5 linked regions of the Homo sapiens genome follow. The protein of the gene in region 2 purifies or fractionates together with the protein of the main gene of each other region. This does not show direct contact. Each region holds a gene or a part of one and is shown on either strand. Other genes may lie near its edges. The genes, in order: NEIL3, CRYBG2, MCM8, ZZZ3 and EIF4G3.

Evidence for each region.
Region 1: the proteins of CRYBG2 (region 2) and NEIL3 purify together in Homo sapiens (affinity purification with mass spectrometry; one large-scale study listed by BioGRID and IntAct). This does not show direct contact.
Region 3: the proteins of CRYBG2 (region 2) and MCM8 purify together in Homo sapiens (affinity purification with mass spectrometry; one large-scale study listed by BioGRID and IntAct). This does not show direct contact.
Region 4: the proteins of CRYBG2 (region 2) and ZZZ3 purify together in Homo sapiens (affinity purification with mass spectrometry; one large-scale study listed by BioGRID and IntAct). This does not show direct contact.
Region 5: the proteins of CRYBG2 (region 2) and EIF4G3 purify together in Homo sapiens (affinity purification with mass spectrometry; one large-scale study listed by BioGRID and IntAct). This does not show direct contact.

What each region holds. Positions count from the first base shown.
Region 1 is NC_000004.12:177,308,387-177,312,688, reverse strand, and holds the start of NEIL3 (endonuclease 8-like 3), read right to left. Parts: upstream 2,816-4,302; 5' UTR 2,736-2,815; coding exon 2,580-2,735; intron 1-2,579. UniProt on the Homo sapiens protein: DNA glycosylase which prefers single-stranded DNA (ssDNA), or partially ssDNA structures such as bubble and fork structures, to double-stranded DNA (dsDNA).
Region 2 is NC_000001.11:26,351,316-26,355,548, forward strand, and holds the start of CRYBG2 (beta/gamma crystallin domain-containing protein 2), read right to left. Parts: upstream 2,816-4,233; 5' UTR 2,721-2,815; intron 1-2,720.
Region 3 is NC_000020.11:5,971,135-5,974,653, reverse strand, and holds part of MCM8 (DNA helicase MCM8), read right to left. Parts: intron 2,648-3,519; coding exon 2,617-2,647; intron 2,079-2,616; coding exon of another isoform or gene 1,928-2,078; intron 1,599-1,927; coding exon 1,458-1,598; intron 1-1,457. UniProt on the Homo sapiens protein: Component of the MCM8-MCM9 complex, a complex involved in the repair of double-stranded DNA breaks (DBSs) and DNA interstrand cross-links (ICLs) by homologous recombination (HR).
Region 4 is NC_000001.11:77,630,649-77,634,167, reverse strand, and holds part of ZZZ3 (ZZ-type zinc finger-containing protein 3), read left to right. Parts: intron 1-762; 5' UTR 763-813; coding exon 814-2,318; exon of another isoform or gene 2,319-2,333; intron 2,334-3,519.
Region 5 is NC_000001.11:20,935,898-20,939,397, forward strand, and holds part of EIF4G3 (eukaryotic translation initiation factor 4 gamma 3), read right to left. Parts: intron 1-3,500. UniProt on the Homo sapiens protein: Component of the protein complex eIF4F, which is involved in the recognition of the mRNA cap, ATP-dependent unwinding of 5'-terminal secondary structure and recruitment of mRNA to the ribosome. Functional homolog of EIF4G1.

The sequences.
Region 1 (4,302 bases), on a different chromosome or scaffold from region 2:
AAAATAATACCTTTAAATGCCAGGCTTTTTATGTGTGGGGTATAACTTATTGAATATTGCTGCCAAGTGATGTTAATAATTGCCTAACCATTACTGACGCATTTGTATTATATTATCAGGCTGCACTCTTTTGTGCAATCCAAACATGGCCATAGAAGCTGTTAGAAGAGAATTATCAGAATAGATATAAGAGAATTGACTCAACCGAACAAAACTAAAAATGGTGGTAGACACAGCCAAAAATCCAAGATTGCACTTTTCTATTTAATAAATAACCACTACTATATACTGAGCATTATGGTGTTCTTACCGTTGTATGCTAAAAAAGCAATAAAGATCCTACTGAATCTTTTATGGCTGAGAGGAGCTATGGCATGGTTAAGAGGGTAGGCTTTGGAGTTTTAAAGAAAAATCAAACCCTGGTTTAGCCCCTTACTAGACATGTGATCTTGGGCAAATTTACTTAAAGTCACTCTGAGCCTCATATGCCTCATCTGTAGAATCAGGTTAATCCTTTATCATAGGGTTATCCTTTTTCATGACTGAATGAAATGTAAAAGCATCTCATGCCATACCATCAGAGATAATCACAACAAAACTTAAAAGGAAATGTTTAAGCTATTTTTCCTAAATACCAATGAGGTGATATTTATTTAAAACATTAGGTTGGACTCTCACAGCAGAAAGCATATCCTACTCATCTTCGTATCCGCAGGAGCTAGCATAAAACCTAACACAAAATACGTTGTGGTTGAATGATGTAAATGATGATATCCCTAAGTATATTCATGTCATATCCATTGCTTAGCCCTCCCATCATAGTGATTCTCTTGTCTTCATCTCCACCACCAGCACTTGACCCCAAATTTGTCACCTGGATTTCTGCAGTCGACTCCTAAATGAGAGGGCAGTGTCTACTCTGGCTTTCTTTCAGTCTTTTTCCTGTTCCAATCCCTGAGCTGCATGGCTTCTACTCACCCTGCACACCTCAGCTTTTTTTTTTTTTTTTTTTTTGAGACAGAGTTTCGCTCTTGTTGCCCAGGCTGGGGTGCAATAACGCGACCTCAGCTCACTGCAACCTCCACCTCCTGGATTCAAGCGATTCTCCTGCCTCAGCCTCCTGAGTAGCTGGGATTACAGGCATGCACCAGCATGCCTGACTAATTTTTTATTTTTGTAGGGATGGAATTTCTCCATATTGGTCAGGCTGGTGTTGAACTCCCAACCTCAGGCGATCTGCCCACCTCAGCATCCCAAAGTGCTGGGATTACAGGCATGAGCCACTGCACCCGGCCCACACCTCAGCTTTGCTACTTCCCTGGGGAAGCCTTCCCAGGTCTTCCTACAAGTCCTTAAAGAATCGTGTATCTCTCCTTCACAGAACTTATTAATTTATATTTCTTTAGGTGATTATTTAATGAATGTCTTTGTGTCTTCCCAACTGAAGTATAGGCTCCAAAAGAGGAAGTATTTGTTTTTGCTCCCCAGGTGTCTTGAGTATTCAAAATTTTATTGAATGAGTAATTTTCATAAATATTAATATTCTTAAGAAACCATCTAAAATCCATCTCTGTGGTACCCTGAAACGATTTTAGAAACACTATAACAATAATAAAAAAAAATAGGTACAGAGTACTTACTGGCATATCAAGTCAAAATAAACAAAAGGGCAATTGGAAGGAGATGTAAAACTTATTTTTTCCCAAGTTTGAAAATATATTTTCTTAGACTTAGAACCTCATTTCTTTCAAGTTGTAAGCATATGCTAATTTCATAGCAGGCAACTTTTTCTTCCAGGACCAAAGGCTATAAGAAGCTTTGCAGAAGAAATTGAAATACAGTGCAATATTGCATGTAGGCATGAAATACAATCATCCATACATCTAGAGGGCTTTTAAAACATGATGCCTTAATCAGAATATTTTTAGTACAAGTTCTGGCCAAATGAATACCACATCGTCTGCAATGAATGCCTGAGTGGCAAGAAGCTGTGCTAGTTTACTTTAAAAAGAAATAAATTCACTTAAGGGAACCAGAACTGGGTTTCATTGCCCCTTAATTAGATGGCAATATGAAGTTGAGTGAGAAGTTAGTGCTAAATTTTCTACGTGTAGTTTTAGAATTATATACTAGTTGTGATATACTTACCAATTGCAGATTAGCCAAGCAAGAAAGTAGAATTTTATGCTAAAAGCTTAAAATGGGACGAAGAAAACATATCAGAGGTAGCAGAGATTTGATAATATCAATAGTAAAAAATGCAGCTGTAGACATGGGAAACCATGTGTGTATCATAAAGAAGTTAAGTAAGGTGACTCGGATAAAACACCTTCACTGGATTCCCCTAGGGCATCTTGCTCCGGCAGCGTGAGCCCAGAACGCTAGCCCTCCTCTCCTGCGCAGGCGCGCTAGGACCGACTTCTCCCTACAGTAAAGTGACGATAAACTCTGTGAAAGGTGGGACCCCAGGAAACCTGGGCCAGAGCAAAGAGATGACACTTTAAATCCTGGAACCCTGATGGGGTCTTTATTCCATTTCCCCCCTGCTGACTGCATGGCCTGTTACAGGAGTAGCTCACCTGCGGGGAGACCACAACCGTGGAGGCTGCGAGCCGCAAGGCGCGGCCCTGCAGACTCCGCAGAGCGCTTCCCCGCACGCCGGTCACCGCCTGGCCCGGGAGCACCCGCGCGCGAATCTTCTCTCCATTCAGAGTACAGCCTGGTCCTTCCACCATCTCTGTGGCCGGCACTGTGGCCCACCGATTGCAGGGCCTGGTGAGAATACCGCTGTGCAACTCAACGCTGCGCGGGCACTGACCGCACGCAGAGGAAATTCAAATCTCGCGCGCGTCTGGCCCCGCCCAGGCCCCGCCCAAACAGCACCCTAGCTGTTGAGGTCGCTCCCTACGGCGCATGCGCTGTGGTTCACCCCCGCCCTAGGTCTTGCTGTGGGTTTATTAAGAAAACGCAAACGCGCGTGGGGCGGGGGGCGTGGAGGACAACTAACTAGGCTGAACTGTAAAAGCAGAAGAAATTGGGACTTGGAAAGCTCTGAATGTATTTTCTTTGCGTTAAAGTTTTGCCCTTGTCTTTGAGCTACTTAGTATACACACATTTTCTGATCTGGTCCTCTTAATCTGTCCTTGTCTGTGACAGGACAGATATGTCACAGACAATCTTGTTTTTGGCTCTGTTTTTGGCATGCTATATTCGGACGTGGGTGGGATAAGAGAAACGAAGAAGAGGGTTTTTGGAACAAACAGCAGAATATATTCTAGTGTCTATATTTAAAAACTCCATTATTAGATAGTTAAGTGAGCCCTACCTAAGTGCATGCATCCATTTTGTAAGGGGACGCCCCAAGATGAAAGCTATATGAAATTGCTTTGTTAAACGTAGAGGTTTATATAAATTTGAGGGTAATGCGTAGCTTTTCAAATTTACCCACAACCCTAACCAAAGATGCATGCATACATATAAATCTATGAAGTTTATGACTCCATATAGTTTTGTAAATTATAAAGTGTATTCTTTTTTGAAAACTGAAATACTACACATTAAAACAGAATGTCAATTTCTAAGTGATTTCATAAGCATAGCACTGTGCTGCCGTTAAACCACAAGAGCATATACACAGGTGGTTGCTGACTTAGGATGCCCCAGCGTAACAGTGTTTTGACTGTATGATGGTGCAAAAGTGACACACAGTAGAAACTGTACTTTGAGTACTCATATAGCCATTCTGTTTTTCATTTTCAGTACAGTAGTCAATAAATTATTCAACACTTTATTATAAAATATGCTTTGTGTTAGGTGATTTTTCCCAACTGTAGGCTAATGTAAGTGTTCTGAACACATTTAAGGAGGGCCTCGTGAAGCTATGATGTTTGGTAGGTTAGATATATTAAAGGCATTTTCGACTTACTGTATTTTCAGTTTACAACGGGTTTATCAGGACATAACCCCATCGTAAGTTGAGGAGCATCTGTATACTAGAGAGTTGAATTTGAATATACTGAAGACTTGATTGAAATTTTGAAAAGTATTAAATCTTTCCTTTGCAGGGAGAGATTAGTGATCAAAAGTTGGCTGGATCAATTTCAGGACTATTTGTACTTTACTCCCTTGTTCAATTCAATAATCTCTGTCCTTTGATGGAGAAAAGTCCTATATACCTTCTCCTCTTTCAGCGTTGTACTAGTTATTTATTGTTACCTCATCAATTATCCCATTTGTTATTTCAAAGTTTCTGTGGGTCAGGAATTTGGCAATAGTCTAGCTAGCCAGAGTCATCCTGGCTCA
Region 2 (4,233 bases):
CCTGCCTTCCACTCTCCGAGCTTCCTTGTCTCTGATGGTGCTTATAGTAAGTGGCAAAGCTTGAGCTCTAACTCATTCATTCATTCATTCAATTACTCACTCATTCAGTGCTAATTGTATCAAGGGATGTGCTAGGCCTTGGCTAGACTCAACCAGAACCAGAGCCAACTTTCTCATGAAAGGTGGCATATTAAGAAGCCAGGGGCCAAGGAATTAGACATAAAAACAGGGACATTTGGAAAGCGCCATAGGCATCAGGAAAGCGACAGGAGAGCAATGTTAAAGGAGGCGGCCGATCATGAGATCAGATATTGTCGATGACCTCCTACCAATCAGAATTTAACGTCTTTCTCAACCAGCCCAACCCCTGGACAACACCCCTGATAGCCAGTCATTCCACAAGCATGTGGTCATTGGCTTCTGCCTGCATACCTCCAGGGACAGGGAGGTCACCACTCGACAGTTCACCTGCCCCGTCCCTGAACAGTCATGAGTGCTAGAATGTCCTTCAGACTCTGCTGGAATGTGCCTGCCTATAGATGCCCCCTTTTGTCCTTGCTCTGAAGACATACCCCAATACAATGACCCAGGATGCCTCTCCTGGGCCAGCAGAAGGGGCCATTCCCAGAGCCCTTTCTTCTGCAGGGCCCCAGACCAGAAGTGGATTTGTTGGCAGCGTGACCTGTGACCTCCAAACAAGGCGTGTGGAGCTGGGAAGGGAGAGGCTGAGGAGGGGGCGGGGGGAGTGTGGGAAAGAGCCTTGTCTAACCCAACAAGTCCTGGATTCTCCCCACTTACCTGTGAGTCACCCCCAAACTAGGCCAAACCAGTCCACAGGCCCACATGCAGGCAAACACATGCTGTGTCACACAGACGCAGGCACAGACACACAGACAGATACCGACACAGACCCACAATCACACAGGCACAAAGATACACCTAGAAGCCTATAAAAACATACACAACCAGGGACACACACACAAATATACACTCACCCAAGAAATACAAACACGCACAGGCACTCAGAGCCACAACAGACACACAAATCACATACAGACAGAAACACAGGCACAGTGACACACACGTGCACACATTCACAATACACACACAGTCAATTCACAGCCCCAAGCTCTCTTCCCCTTGAAATTCACCTACCCCTGAACGTGGACACACACGCTTGGATGCACACGTATCTTACACATTCCCACTGGCAGTCCCAGCTATGTCTCACTTCTTCTCGACTCCCATATTTGCCAATCTTGGCCCAGAGAACCTTCTCCCAGGAAGGGGACATAGAAGGATGATGTTTCTGGAGGTCACCTGCCCCCCACTCTAAGTGAGCCCTAGCCTCCCACCTGAGTCTGTCATTATCCACCTGGGCCCAAAATACCCAGGTAGTGGCAGATAGAAACCACCTCCCCCCAGCTAACCCTACTTCTCTTTCCCGTCCCCCTCTCCAAGGTAGCCTCCTCCACCCCCCTTCCCTCTCTCTGCAGCCCTTGTCCCCCAGCCCCTGACTTCTGGGGCATCCAAGCAGGTCTCAGAGCCAGCCTGGGTCCTACATCTCCCTCTTCCTTGGCACGGAAGCAGTCACATTGACCCCTGCTTGGAGGACCCCAGCATTCCTGATTCTGCCTCTGCTACTACAATGCTGCCCAATCCACCGCCATAGGAGCCTAGAAAACCCTGGAGCCCACACAGCAACCTCACTCAACCCTCCACTCTCTGCACAGGGCCAAAGAGGTTTCTTCCAGGCAGGATGGAGCAGTGGTTAGAGCACAGGCACTGGAGTTATAGAAACCTAAGTTCAGATTCTAGCCCCTTCACTTTCTAGTTGACTTTGAGCAAGTGACTTTCAGAGCCTCCTAGAATTAGGTGACAGGGGTTGGGATCAGTCCCTACTCATGGGATGGTTGGGAAGATTAAATAAAATTATGCTTAGAAAACAAATTGCAAATGACAGCCACCCCATCATCCTTAAGCACCCTTCAAAACCCCACCCCAGGCTCATTTCCTCTTCAGGGTCATCCCTGGGAGGTTCCATGTTCATCCCTCCTTGATGAGCTTTGGGGGACATATCCTTCCACCTCTGCGCCCCCCAGGCAGATTTAGGAGAGTCATTTCAACACAAATAAAACTAGGCTTGGGAAACTCGACACCCACTCCTTTGGCTTCCAGCTCAGAGCCAGGTGGGGTAATTATTGCTGTCACTGAGACGTAATTAATAAGCATCCCTGCTATTTTGGCACCCCCAGTCTCTGGAGTTCAAAGTATATTCCTGTAGCCACCTCCTCCTTCCTCATTTTCAGCTACCAAATCCTCTCAACAACTCAAGGCCCAGAGAGGTTAAGCAACTCGCCTCAGGACACCCAGCACCTAGGCTGGGTGCCAATTCCCAGGCTGAGTCTGTGGCCTCCTGAACAGAACTGGGGAGTGGTGTATGCTGTGAAGAAGGCAACCCCCCTTCCTGCCCATCCTCTCCCTGACAGACTTTCCCCTTTCTCAGATGGACAGTGGGGGTGAGAAGCAGTGGGTTCCAGGAGGTAGCCTGTGGGCAAAGGGAGGGAGAGGAAGGCAGGGTTGGAGCAGGGAGGGAAGGCAGAGTCGGCTCAGGGTCCTGAATGAATGGGCCTAGAGCTGGAGAGGCCCAGGGAATAGGCAAAGTCTCAAGACAGGGCAGCCAGGCCAGTCTCCCCTCCCATCTCCACACACAGACCGACCTCTACTCACAGTCTGCGTGGGGACCCAGGTGTCCAGCCAGCCTGGAGCTCCTGCTGCTGGGCCGTGCTCCCCTGATGCGATTGGGCTCTCAGCTGGGGTTCCTGAGGCGGGGCCGTCCGGCACCCTGTGATGGGGCGTGGCCCCTGGGGAGGCTCCCACCAGCCCTCAGATTCCTCAGGGCCGCAGAGGTGTGGAGCTGGTTGGGCCGGTTCTTCACCCTCCTCCCCTGGTGCTTGCCTGTGCCCCAGCAGGGTGACAGTGATGTAGTAGCGGGTCCTCCTGGAAGAGGGACGCGTGTGTAGGGTCTGGGCAGGCTCTGGCAAGGCAGTCCCTGGGGTGGCGGGCTTGCCCTTTGTCCCCTCTGCCCTGGGGAAGGATGCAGGGTGGAGCAGCAGGGGTGCGTCTTCCAGGTTGCTGGGTGGCTCAGGCCTCAGAGGGACCTCTGAAGCTGTGGGTGGAGACTGCTGACAGGTGCAGCCTGAGGATCCCTGCTCCCCATGTCCAGGAGCAGGCCCTGGGTATTGGGGGAGCCTGGTACGAGCAGACTCTCCTGAGGCCACTTCCAGGGCCAGGCTCTCAGGCCCCAGGGAGGCATGGCTGGCCAGGTCGAAGGCGCTGCCCACCGCTGGCCTCTGTAGGCGCCCCAGGGACTGAGCAGGACCCCCCGAGATTCCTTGTTGCTTCCAAATCCAGAAATCATCATGGTCCCCTACATGGATGTCCCATTCTGAGCAGCTCTGGCCTTGGGCCTGGGTGAAAACAGAGATAGACACTGAGAGAGGCAGGGGCATAGTGACAGCTCCCCCTGCCCTCCAGGCACCCCTGGTACCTGGTATCTTCCCTGTCACAAGGAAGCTGAACAGGGCTCTGACACCAAGGTAAGCTGCCCTAGGGAGAGGCTGCTAAGGCCACCAGAGCTGGACAAAGGGACAGAGCTCTGGGAAGGCCCTTCAGCATTTAACTCACCCCTTCCCATTCTACGTAAGAGGAAAGTGGGGCCCAAAGAAGACGGCGACATGACTGAGATCACACAGCAAGCCAGCGAGGGCTCCCAACGCTCAGGTGCCGCACTCCCTCCCAGGTGACAAGGCACCCAGGGCCTGGCCGGCCATGCCCCCCAAAGGCTGGAGATCTCAGCTTCCTTGCAGTCCTGAGGTGCTTCCCCGCCCTGGGGCTGAGGGCTGGGTGGGAAGGCCTGCCTCAAGTGCCCATGGCCTCTGCCCATTCCAAGCTAACAGAGAGACTGCGGCCACCTCTCTTGTACCCTCCCAGCTTGAGACAGAACACCTGGGAGGATGTACCTGGGATATAAGGGAGCCAGAGAAGAGGGTTCCCCTGAAATGGGACAACACCTGACCTCTTCTGCTGTCTTCCCCTGGGGTCCAGCCTGGCTGTGGGGATAAGAGGAGAGGGCTCAGCACCCCAGACCCAGATGGACACTGCCCCCAAAACGACCCGTTTTAAAAGATGGGCTGTTTCCTTGGCAACAGAGGAGGTCAAAATTCCGCCTAG
Region 3 (3,519 bases), on a different chromosome or scaffold from region 2:
GACACTAGGACCCTAACTTAGAAACTCTTAACTCAATTGGCTTGCAGTGGGCTATGGTATTTTCAAAGAGCTCCAAAAGTAATTAAGATGTGCAGCCAGGATCCCAATCCTTGGAAAAAGATTTAGGAGCCATACTACTACAACTTACTAAAGGGCCAGAGAAGCCCTGGTCAATTTTCCACATCGAGTGAAGAAGGGGGCCACAGGCATTTTTAGAAAGCACAGTGGCCAAGCACAGTGGTTCACACCTTTAATCCCAGCACTTTGGAAGGCTAAGGCAGGTGGATCTGCTTGAGCCCAGGAGTTCGAGACCAGCCTGGGCAACATGGCAAAACCCCATCTCTACAAAAAAAGCATTAGCCAGGCATGGTGGCACATGTCTATAGTCCCAGCTACTTGAGAGGCTGAGTTGGAAGAATTGCCTGAGCCCAAGGTGGAAGCTGCAGTAAGCCAAAGTTGCGCCACTGTACTTCAGTCTGGGCAAAAGAGGAAGACCTTGTCTCAAAAAAATAAAGTAGAAAGCACATTACGGCTGGCTTACCGGTTGTCACTTTAAGGAAACTACAAGCATACCAATAAGCAGCACCTTCTAAAGCCATCATAAAACCCAGGAAAGGAAAACCACTAGGCTCTGACTGGCAGAGGCAGAATTTTCTTGGGGATCTACAAATGACTGATCACAGCAGTTGCCTTGCTTTGGACAGAGCGTGGTGGCTCACACCGGTAATCCCAGCACTTTGGGAGGTTAAGGTGGGTGGATCACTTGAGGCCAAGAGTTCAAGACCAGCCTGGCCAACACAGCAAAACCCTGTCTCTACTAAAAATACAAAAATTAGCTGGGCGTGGTGGTGCGCACCTATAATCCCAGCTACTCAGGAGGCTGAGGCACAGGGATTGCTTAAAAGTGGGAGGCAGAGGTTGCAGTGAGCCCAGATCATGCCACTGCACTCCAGCCTGGGCAACAGAGTGTGACTCCGTCTCAAAAAAAAAGGTTGCCTTGATTTGGACTCACAAGCAGTGGAGATATATACAGACAGATCCCACACCTTTAGCAGACTGTTCTTAAAGCCCAATACAGTGTTTATGTACTTGTATGAGGGAGAATAGGTGACCCTGCTTTAACTCCCCTGAACTATTCTGTTCATAGGTGAGGTCACATAACAACTAACAACAACAAAGACTAGCAAAACAATGGTTAGAGAAATGGTTAATATTTCCTAATAGTTGATGTCTCAACAGACCAAGATGTTTGTACAGCCTCTGTAACAGGAGACTGGCTCAATTTAAAAATATGGTCAGATATAAGTTACATATTACTCACACAAATTCCAATTCATTTACGCCACCTAACCATGTCCTCTGGAACACACACACTACATGCTTTGAGAAAATTCACTTGTGAATTATTAACGCATTTTACAAGCAAAAGAACAAACACTAAATGACTGATTGTCTACCTGTAGCATTTGACTTTTTCCTAGGCCTGGATCTCCAACAACAAGGATGTGGGGGTCTCCCCGAATTGGAATTCTGTTTTTGTCATCTGCGTATTTCTGGCTTCCTCCAAAGAGTGCTAATGCCAAACCTGCTTTAACAAGCTCAAGTGCGAAAAAAGAACAAAAAACAGAAGTAAGGAAAACATAAAGGTGACTAGTAAAGGGGGTATTCCTCCTTCTATAATATTAATTTGTTTGGGGATTGTTTTAAAAGCATGATAATTTTTTTCTAAGAAAAGGAAGTCTAAAAACAAACTTCTATCACGTAAATGATTAAAAAGTAAAAACTTGAAAACATATAAAATCAGAGCTATCTTAGAAATTACTAAGAGCTACCTTGCAAGGCATAAATCCATTCCACAAAAACGAGAAATATTTGTTTTTGCTTTAATACTGGCAGTGTCTAGTCACTTTAAAAGCCCATTTCTTACCAAAAGTAGCTGGGTCTGGTGGCGCATGCCTGTAGTCCCAGCTACTCGGCAGGCTGAGGTGGGAGAACTGTTTGAACTTGGGAGGTGGAGGTTGCAGTGAGCTGAGATCGCACCACTGTACTCTAGCCTGGGCGACAGAGCAAGACTCCATCTCAAAAAAATAAATAAATAAAATAAAAGCCCATTCATATTTACTCTAGTTGGTAAAAGTTTTTTCTTAAAAGGAGCTATACGGCTGACACCTATAATCCCAGCACTTTGGAGGCTAAATTGGGTGGATCACTTGAGGCCAGGACTTACAGACCAGCGTGGGCAACATGGCAAAACCCCATCTCTACAAAAAATACAAAAAAATTAGCTGCACATGGTGGTGCATGCCTGTAGTTCCAGCTACTCAGGAGGCTGAGGTCAGGAGGATGACCTGAGCCCCAAAGCTGGAGGTTGCAGTGAGCCATGACTGTGCCATCACACTCTAGCCTGGGTGACAGAGCAAAACCCTGTCTCAAAAAATTAAAAAAATTAAAAAAAAAAAAGCTATAGTTTGCTTGCCTCCCATATCATTAATTTACAAAGCATATTAAGATATAAATAACTGGCCAATAGAAATTTGCTACTTTCTGTAAAGTTTTTATATGTTATTTTTGCTAACCTTATATACTTTTTGAGTAAAGATGAAGTAAAATACTTACTTCATGACCAAAAATGACAGGGCAAAGCGAGCTGAAAAACAGAACACAACTTATAAATTCTAATTTATACTTCATTGATCCATTAGGAGATCTCCTCTACAATTTGTTTAACCTGCTTAATATCAACAAAGACAAATGTAAAAAATTTACATCCCCTCAACTGAAATTTTATTCTTACAGTACATTTCTCAAAGTTCTTGGTTAATCTATAAAGGTTAGAATTTTTTAAAAACTCTGCATAAGGAACAGAGGATACTTGCAAAGCATCTTAAAGTAACTAAATACAATGTTGCTCTTCTTACACAACTAGCCTTAAAATGCGTCACAATCATGGTCTTCCATTTTAGGATACGGGATTATATTGTATTTTATGTGAACAGACATCTTGAGACTGTGCAGCCAAGTCACTGAAAGGAGACTGAGAAGTGAACTCAGTATATAATACTCTAAGATGGGATAAAATTTCATTTTTTTCAGTTCAAGTCAAAAGGTCAAATTAAATAAGAAAATGAGGCCAGGTGCAGTGATTTGTAGAACCAGAAAGTCCAGAAAGGTGGGATAACTCAAAGCATGGGCTTCCAGCCTACAGGTAAATCTAAACATTTTCTGGTTGACAATTGGTTGAGTTTGTCTAAAGACCTGGGATCAATAGAAAGGAATGTTTGGGATGCAAGAGGTTGTAGAGACCAAAGTTTTATCATGCAGATGAAGCTTTGGCTAACAGGTTTCAGAGAGAACAGGCTGTAAAATGTTTCTTATTAGACTTAAAATCTGTGTTGATGTTAATGCCAGAGAGGTATAATAAGGCATGTCTGACCCCCACTTCCCTTTGTGGCCTGAATCAGTCTTTCAGGTTAAATCTTAAGAGCCCTGGCTGAGAAGGAAGTCTGTTTAAATGGGTGG
Region 4 (3,519 bases), about 51 Mb from region 2:
GAGACAGTCTCACTCTGTCGCCCAAGCTGGAGTGCAGTGGCATGATCTCGGCTCACTGCAAACTCTGCCTCCCGGGTTCAAGTAATTTTCCTGCCTCAGCCTCCTGAGTATCTGGGATTACAGGCGTGTGCCACCACACCTGGCTAATTTTTGTATTTTTAGTAGAGACAGCGTTTCACCATGTTGGTCAGGCTGGTCTTGAACTCCTGACCTCATGATCCTCCCGCCTCAGCCTCCCAAAGTGCTAAGATTACAGGTGTGAGCCACTGCGCCCGGCCGAAGATTATTATTTTAATGACCAAAATGAAATCACATCTTTAGGATAGATCTCTTCTGGGTGTTTTATGCCTGAGAGGCAGATACACAGTGAGGCAGTTATGGTCTCTAGAGCCCTGCCTTGCTACTTACTAGAGTTGTGACCTTGGATAGAATATTCAGAGTGTGCTTTAATCTCATTCGTGAAGTAGGGATGATAGTAGCACCTATCTGAGTTGTTGTGAGACTTAAGTGAGTTAATGTATGTAAGGCATATAGAAAGACTCATGGAACATATTAAGTACTGTATGCTTGTTAGCTATAATTTATATCATTATTGGAAACGTTAAAGAATTTTTATCACATAATTTAATATTGGCAGTTATATAGATAGTTATAGACTGTAATGTCCAAGTATACTTGGATTAAAAAGTTATAGCTTTATACTTTCGTTCTGGGTATATTAACTATTACCTTTTTCTCATTATTTTGTTTACATTTTTGAAGGTTTCCCAATGAGTGGATCATGATGACCGTATTGTAGGGACTTGCCATAGTATGGCTGCTTCCCGATCTACTCGTGTTACAAGATCAACAGTGGGGTTAAACGGCTTGGATGAATCTTTTTGTGGTAGAACTTTAAGGAATCGTAGCATTGCGCATCCTGAAGAAATCTCTTCTAATTCTCAAGTACGATCAAGATCACCAAAGAAGAGACCAGAGCCTGTGCCAATTCAGAAAGGAAATAATAATGGGAGAACCACTGATTTAAAACAGCAGAGTACCCGAGAATCATGGGTAAGCCCTAGGAAAAGAGGACTTTCTTCTTCAGAAAAGGATAACATAGAAAGGCAGGCTATAGAAAATTGTGAGAGAAGGCAAACAGAACCTGTTTCACCAGTTTTAAAAAGAATTAAGCGTTGTCTTAGATCTGAAGCACCAAACAGTTCAGAAGAAGATTCTCCTATAAAATCAGACAAGGAGTCAGTAGAACAGAGGAGTACAGTAGTGGACAATGATGCAGATTTTCAAGGGACTAAACGAGCTTGTCGATGTCTTATACTGGATGATTGTGAGAAAAGGGAAATTAAAAAGGTGAATGTCAGTGAGGAAGGGCCACTTAATTCTGCAGTAGTTGAAGAAATCACAGGCTATTTGGCTGTCAATGGTGTTGATGACAGTGATTCAGCTGTTATAAACTGTGATGACTGTCAGCCTGATGGGAACACTAAACAAAATAGCATTGGTTCCTATGTGTTACAGGAAAAATCAGTAGCTGAAAATGGGGATACGGATACCCAAACTTCAATGTTCCTTGATAGTAGGAAGGAGGACAGTTATATAGACCATAAGGTGCCTTGCACAGATTCACAAGTGCAGGTCAAGTTGGAGGACCACAAAATAGTAACTGCCTGCTTGCCTGTGGAACATGTTAATCAGCTGACTACTGAGCCAGCTACAGGGCCCTTTTCTGAAACTCAGTCATCTTTAAGGGATTCTGAGGAGGAAGTAGATGTGGTGGGAGATAGCAGTGCCTCAAAAGAGCAGTGTAAAGAAAACACCAATAACGAACTGGACACAAGTCTTGAGAGTATGCCAGCCTCCGGAGAACCTGAACCATCTCCTGTTCTAGACTGTGTTTCAGCTCAAATGATGTCTTTATCAGAACCTCAAGAACATCGTTATACTCTGAGAACCTCACCACGAAGGGCAGCCCCTACCAGAGGTAGTCCCACTAAAAACAGTTCTCCTTACAGAGAAAATGGACAATTTGAGGAGAATAATCTTAGTCCTAATGAAACAAATGCAACTGTTAGTGATAATGTAAGTCAATCTCCTACAAATCCTGGTGAAATTTCTCAAAATGAAAAAGGGATATGTTGTGACTCTCAAAATAATGGAAGTGAAGGAGTAAGTAAACCACCCTCAGAGGCAAGACTCAATATTGGACATTTGCCATCTGCCAAAGAGAGTGCCAGTCAGCACATTACAGAAGAGGAAGATGATGATCCTGATGTTTATTACTTTGAATCAGATCATGTGGCACTGAAACACAACAAAGAGTATGTGTAAATATGGTAACCATGAATTCTGCTTTGTTTATTATTCCCCAAGTTTTTCAGTATCTATTCGTAGTGTTTTTATTACAGCCAAAATTAATGTTTTCACTAAAATTTTAGGTTTAATATGATTTTCTCAACTCTTAGAAAAACTCCAAAAAAAGACTTAAACTCAACTTTACACGTGTGTTCTATGACAACATGGTCTTTCCAGTTCTGATATTTCATGTCTCAATTAGAAAAGACATGGTTGGTAGTGTTTTTGTTTTTTTAATATGTTTTATATCATTTTTAGTTAATTTATACAATGGAAACACATTGAGTTACCACAGTATGCTTTGATTTATAGTTCTAGATAGCATAGGACAATTAATGAGTGCTTAGACATCATCCAGATATGTGAAGTCTGGCAGGCTTGACATCTACTTTTATCTTACTTACATTTAATTCCCAATTAAAATTTTTTATTAAAAAATGTGCTTTATGCATCATCTTTGACTTTGACTTAGAGAAGTGGATATTACTATTAACACTATGACAGTATATTGTAATTAGCATATTAGCAAGGGTTAGTCTACTGGATAGTTTACATAAAACATTTGACATAGCTTTTCCTGATACTAAATATAAAGGAAGACTATCTTAAAATATTATCAGCTCTCAACCTTTGCTAAGTCACTGTTGTAAATAAAGAATTCTGTATCCAAATTTTTCACAATATTTCTTGCCTAGATTTCCTATAAAGTATTCAGGGCCATAACACAAAAGATTTGGAGCTTACTATGTCTAGATAATCCTGAAAAGAACTAGAACACACAGTGCTCATCATAAATATCATGATTAGCAACAATAAAAGACAGACTTATGTAATAAGTTAATTACCTTTATTGCTACAGGGTAGGCTTTTGAATTAATATCACAACCAGATTATATAGACTGTACATAAATACTTTGATTTGAGGAACATTTCTAGTGGTTTTGTTGTGACAATTGCCAGACCCTGGTATGTGTCAGATCAAAGTATCAAATCCTGGTTGTGGGACATAATATTTTTTTTGCCATGCATTGTAGATAGTGTAGATTTGTATATGGTAATACAGTGGTCTTTCAGCATAGGCCCCTTCTGAAAAGTTTTCTTCTGCTTTCTTTTGAAATACTATCTTAATATTGTATTTGATAGTTCATGTCATCTGAGCATTTTACA
Region 5 (3,500 bases), 5.4 Mb from region 2:
CTTTGTCATGGAGGAGGATTAGTTACTAAATGTGGGGAAAAGGGAGCTACATTTTGAACAAAGTATAACTACTCAGAAAGATGTAGAACTAAGTTAATACCCAATGACTGAGACTTTAGGGCTCATGATGAAAGACATGAACTACTGTAAAAAATGGGGAAATCTATCCCACATAAAGAGGCAAGGAAGAACTACGTAAGGGACTTGCCAACAGGCTCAACTAACAGGTGTCTGGGCTCATTCTGCAGTATATAAAAGAATTTGACCAGCATCAGTATTTTCCAAGGAATGCCTAAGAGTTTACTGGGGAGGGAAACAAGAAAATAGGAATGGGATGGCAGAAACATACCTTTTAGGCAGCTTTGTTGGAAACAGTTTACAAACAAGGTGGAGAAAACCTTTATTTATCCCTAAGGATCACTCAGACTCAAGCCTCTGAAAACTGAAGCCAATGGTCCTTGCTTTAAGGATCACTCTGCTTGTTTTGGTAGATGACAAAGAACCAGGAATGTGTAAGGAGTCCTGTTTCCATGTTTCCAGAACACGTTTCTGTAGAAGCTAAATTATAAGGATGCATAGTAGTATAGTGATTAGGCCAACAGGATACTCAAACCATTGGCAATCTACTTTTGGCCCCAGCGACTAAATCTTCCAGAGATATTTCAAATATATTTTAGAATATGTAAGTTGAGCAAAGGTTAGAATAAATTTTATTATTTAAAAGATTAGTCATTTTTAGTTTAATCTAGGAAAACTGATAGACTTTTATATCTCTGGTTTTATGTTTGCTATGTTTATTTCTTTGAAAGTACTCTGAATACTCTCACAGTTGAGAATAAAGCAAGGGTTGTTATTAAAATATTTTTCTTGCACTGAAGTATGCTCCCTTTACACTTCAGTAAGTCTAAACTAAAAGAGAAAGCAGCAACTTGATTGGCTACATGGATCAGTATTTTGTTAACATTACCAAAACATATAATCGTATCTCCATTTGAGAAATAAACTTCCTATGTTATATTCTACAGAATCTGGAAACCCTTCTACATCCTTAGCTGAGCTTACGAGAATATAAGGTAAACTACAGGTCAGTGGCTGATGCCATCCTTACATTCCTGGGGGTGTAGAAGGGTGTGCCAGTCTCTATAACCAATGAATTTGTATTTTTAACACCCATAAGAAAAGAGAGATCTTGGATCCCTGCAAAGTGGGAACCTGGAACTGAGATGCTCACATAAAGCTCTGAGACTCCCAAATGGGTGACATGCTCAGTGAAAAGATAGCTTAAAAAAGAGAGAGAGGGAATAAACCACTGAACCAACACAGTGATGATGAGAAAGGACGTTGTTTCAACTGGATGGAGAGAAGATTGCTGTTACCCTGAAAATTAGTATCCAAGCCATACGGTATGGCTGTCCTTAGGCTTTGGGATAGAACTGTAGCTTTAGGACATTAAACCCAGATTTAGTTCTAACAAACATTAAACCCAGATTTAGTTCCAGCAAATGCTTTCCCCAAGACATGCAGCAGATAAAGTAAACACAAATCTGCTTTAGAATAACTTGCCATCAATCTACATCCAGGAAAATTTATCTGGATAAGTTCATAAAACAAACTTACAAAATATACATTAAAAATGTACTATAAGCAAGAGCCAAAAAAACAAAATAAATAGAAAAATTAGAAATCTCCCTCTGCCTAAGAAAATTTAAATAATGGTTTTATATCTGATACAGGTAAAAATAATAAAATAAAAAAGTCACAATTCTTTTAAAAAGTGGGAAAGTTAATGTTACATACTATACATCATATACATTCCTAAAATTGTAGAAAACAAACTCCTGGATGATTAATGGGGAATGCTTTCCCACAAGTTCAAAACACTCCTTTTTCCTCCCACCAGATACAGAGAATAAACAATAAAAATTCCCAAGACTTTAATATATCATCCAATTAATATCTAGTTTTATGCATTTAATTACTAAAGTGACGGTGATATTAAAAGTGTGGCCAATAACTGAGGCTTTTCAGAGTACACTGAAGATATATACACACCAAATTCTAATTTTACAGAGCTTGTTCTTCAATCCGAAAACAACTGATGCTTTCTTTTTTTTTTTAAGATGGGGTCTTGCTCAGTTGCCTAGGCTGGAGTGAAGTGGCGCGATGTTGGATCACTGCAGCCTCCATCTCCCAAGTTCAAGCAATTCTCCCACCTCAGCCTCCAGAATAGCTGGGATTACAGGCGCATCACCACTCCTGGGTAATTTTTGTATTTTTAGTAGATACGGGGTTTCACCATGTTGGCCAGGCTGGTCCCAAACTCGTGACCTCAGGTGATCCACCCTCCTCAGCCTCCCAAAGTGCTGGGATTACAGGCATGAGCCACCGCGCCCGGCCTCAACTGATGCATTTTTATTCACTCAGAAATATGATCTAGAATAGTTACAAGAAAATGTTTTGCAGCAGAACTAAAAGATACCATATCCCTTATGTTATAACTTTACTGCTTTAACCAACTATCTCTATACCAACTGATATGTTATTTATGTATCAGGTTTCTGAAGCCAGCTTTGAGGTGTTTCATCCTCAGGCAGAGACAAGTAAAAACTATTCTCAAAAGTCACCACCAAAAGACTCATAGGCAAACCAGACTGTTTTGGTGTTACAATTTATTAACTTCTCAAAGTAAACGGCTGTTATGATTTACTAACTTCTCAAAGTAAACAAGGTATAATAAGTGAATATTATGTGAATAAGTGCAAATAAATTATAGTCATTAAGCATATGACCACGTCAGGTGGATATACTTAAAGACTGGAGGTAATTTTAATTTTCATTGTTAACTTTTGTGACAAAACCATTAAAAAATATTCGGACAGAAATGAATGGGTCAGAAATGCTTCTGAGGCTTTATAATTTACAAACTGCTGGCCAGGTGTGGTGGCTCATGCCTGTAATCCCAGCACTTTGGGAGGCTGAGGCGGGCGGATCACAAGGTCAGTAGTTCGAGACCAGCCTGACCAACAAGGTGAAACCCCGTCTCTACTAAAAATACAAAAATAAGCCAGGCGTGGTGGCACACGCCTATAATCCCAGCTACTCAGGAGGCTGAGGCAGGAGAATTGCTTGAACCTGGGAGCCAGAGGTTGCAGTGAGCCGAGATTGCACCACTGCACTCCAGCCCGGGCGATGGAGCGAGACTCCATCTTAAAAAAAATTAAAAAAAAAAAAAAAAAAAGCTAGAGTTGCAGGGGTTCTTGAAGTTCATTTACTGTTGGATTTTGAAGACTATTAAGATGTACAAGGAAATTATAAAACTTGTAATTCCCTTAAACACATAGGTTAAAAAATCAGGAGACTAGAAAAATGCCAAGAAACTTTACCTCCCAACATCACAAACCTCTGTTATTCCAAGTCATTAAAAAAACAGTTCTTTCTTTTCTAAGTGCTCTCTGGATTACCACTGAAGAGTCTATACTCTTTGATTAAGGTGCTGGTGT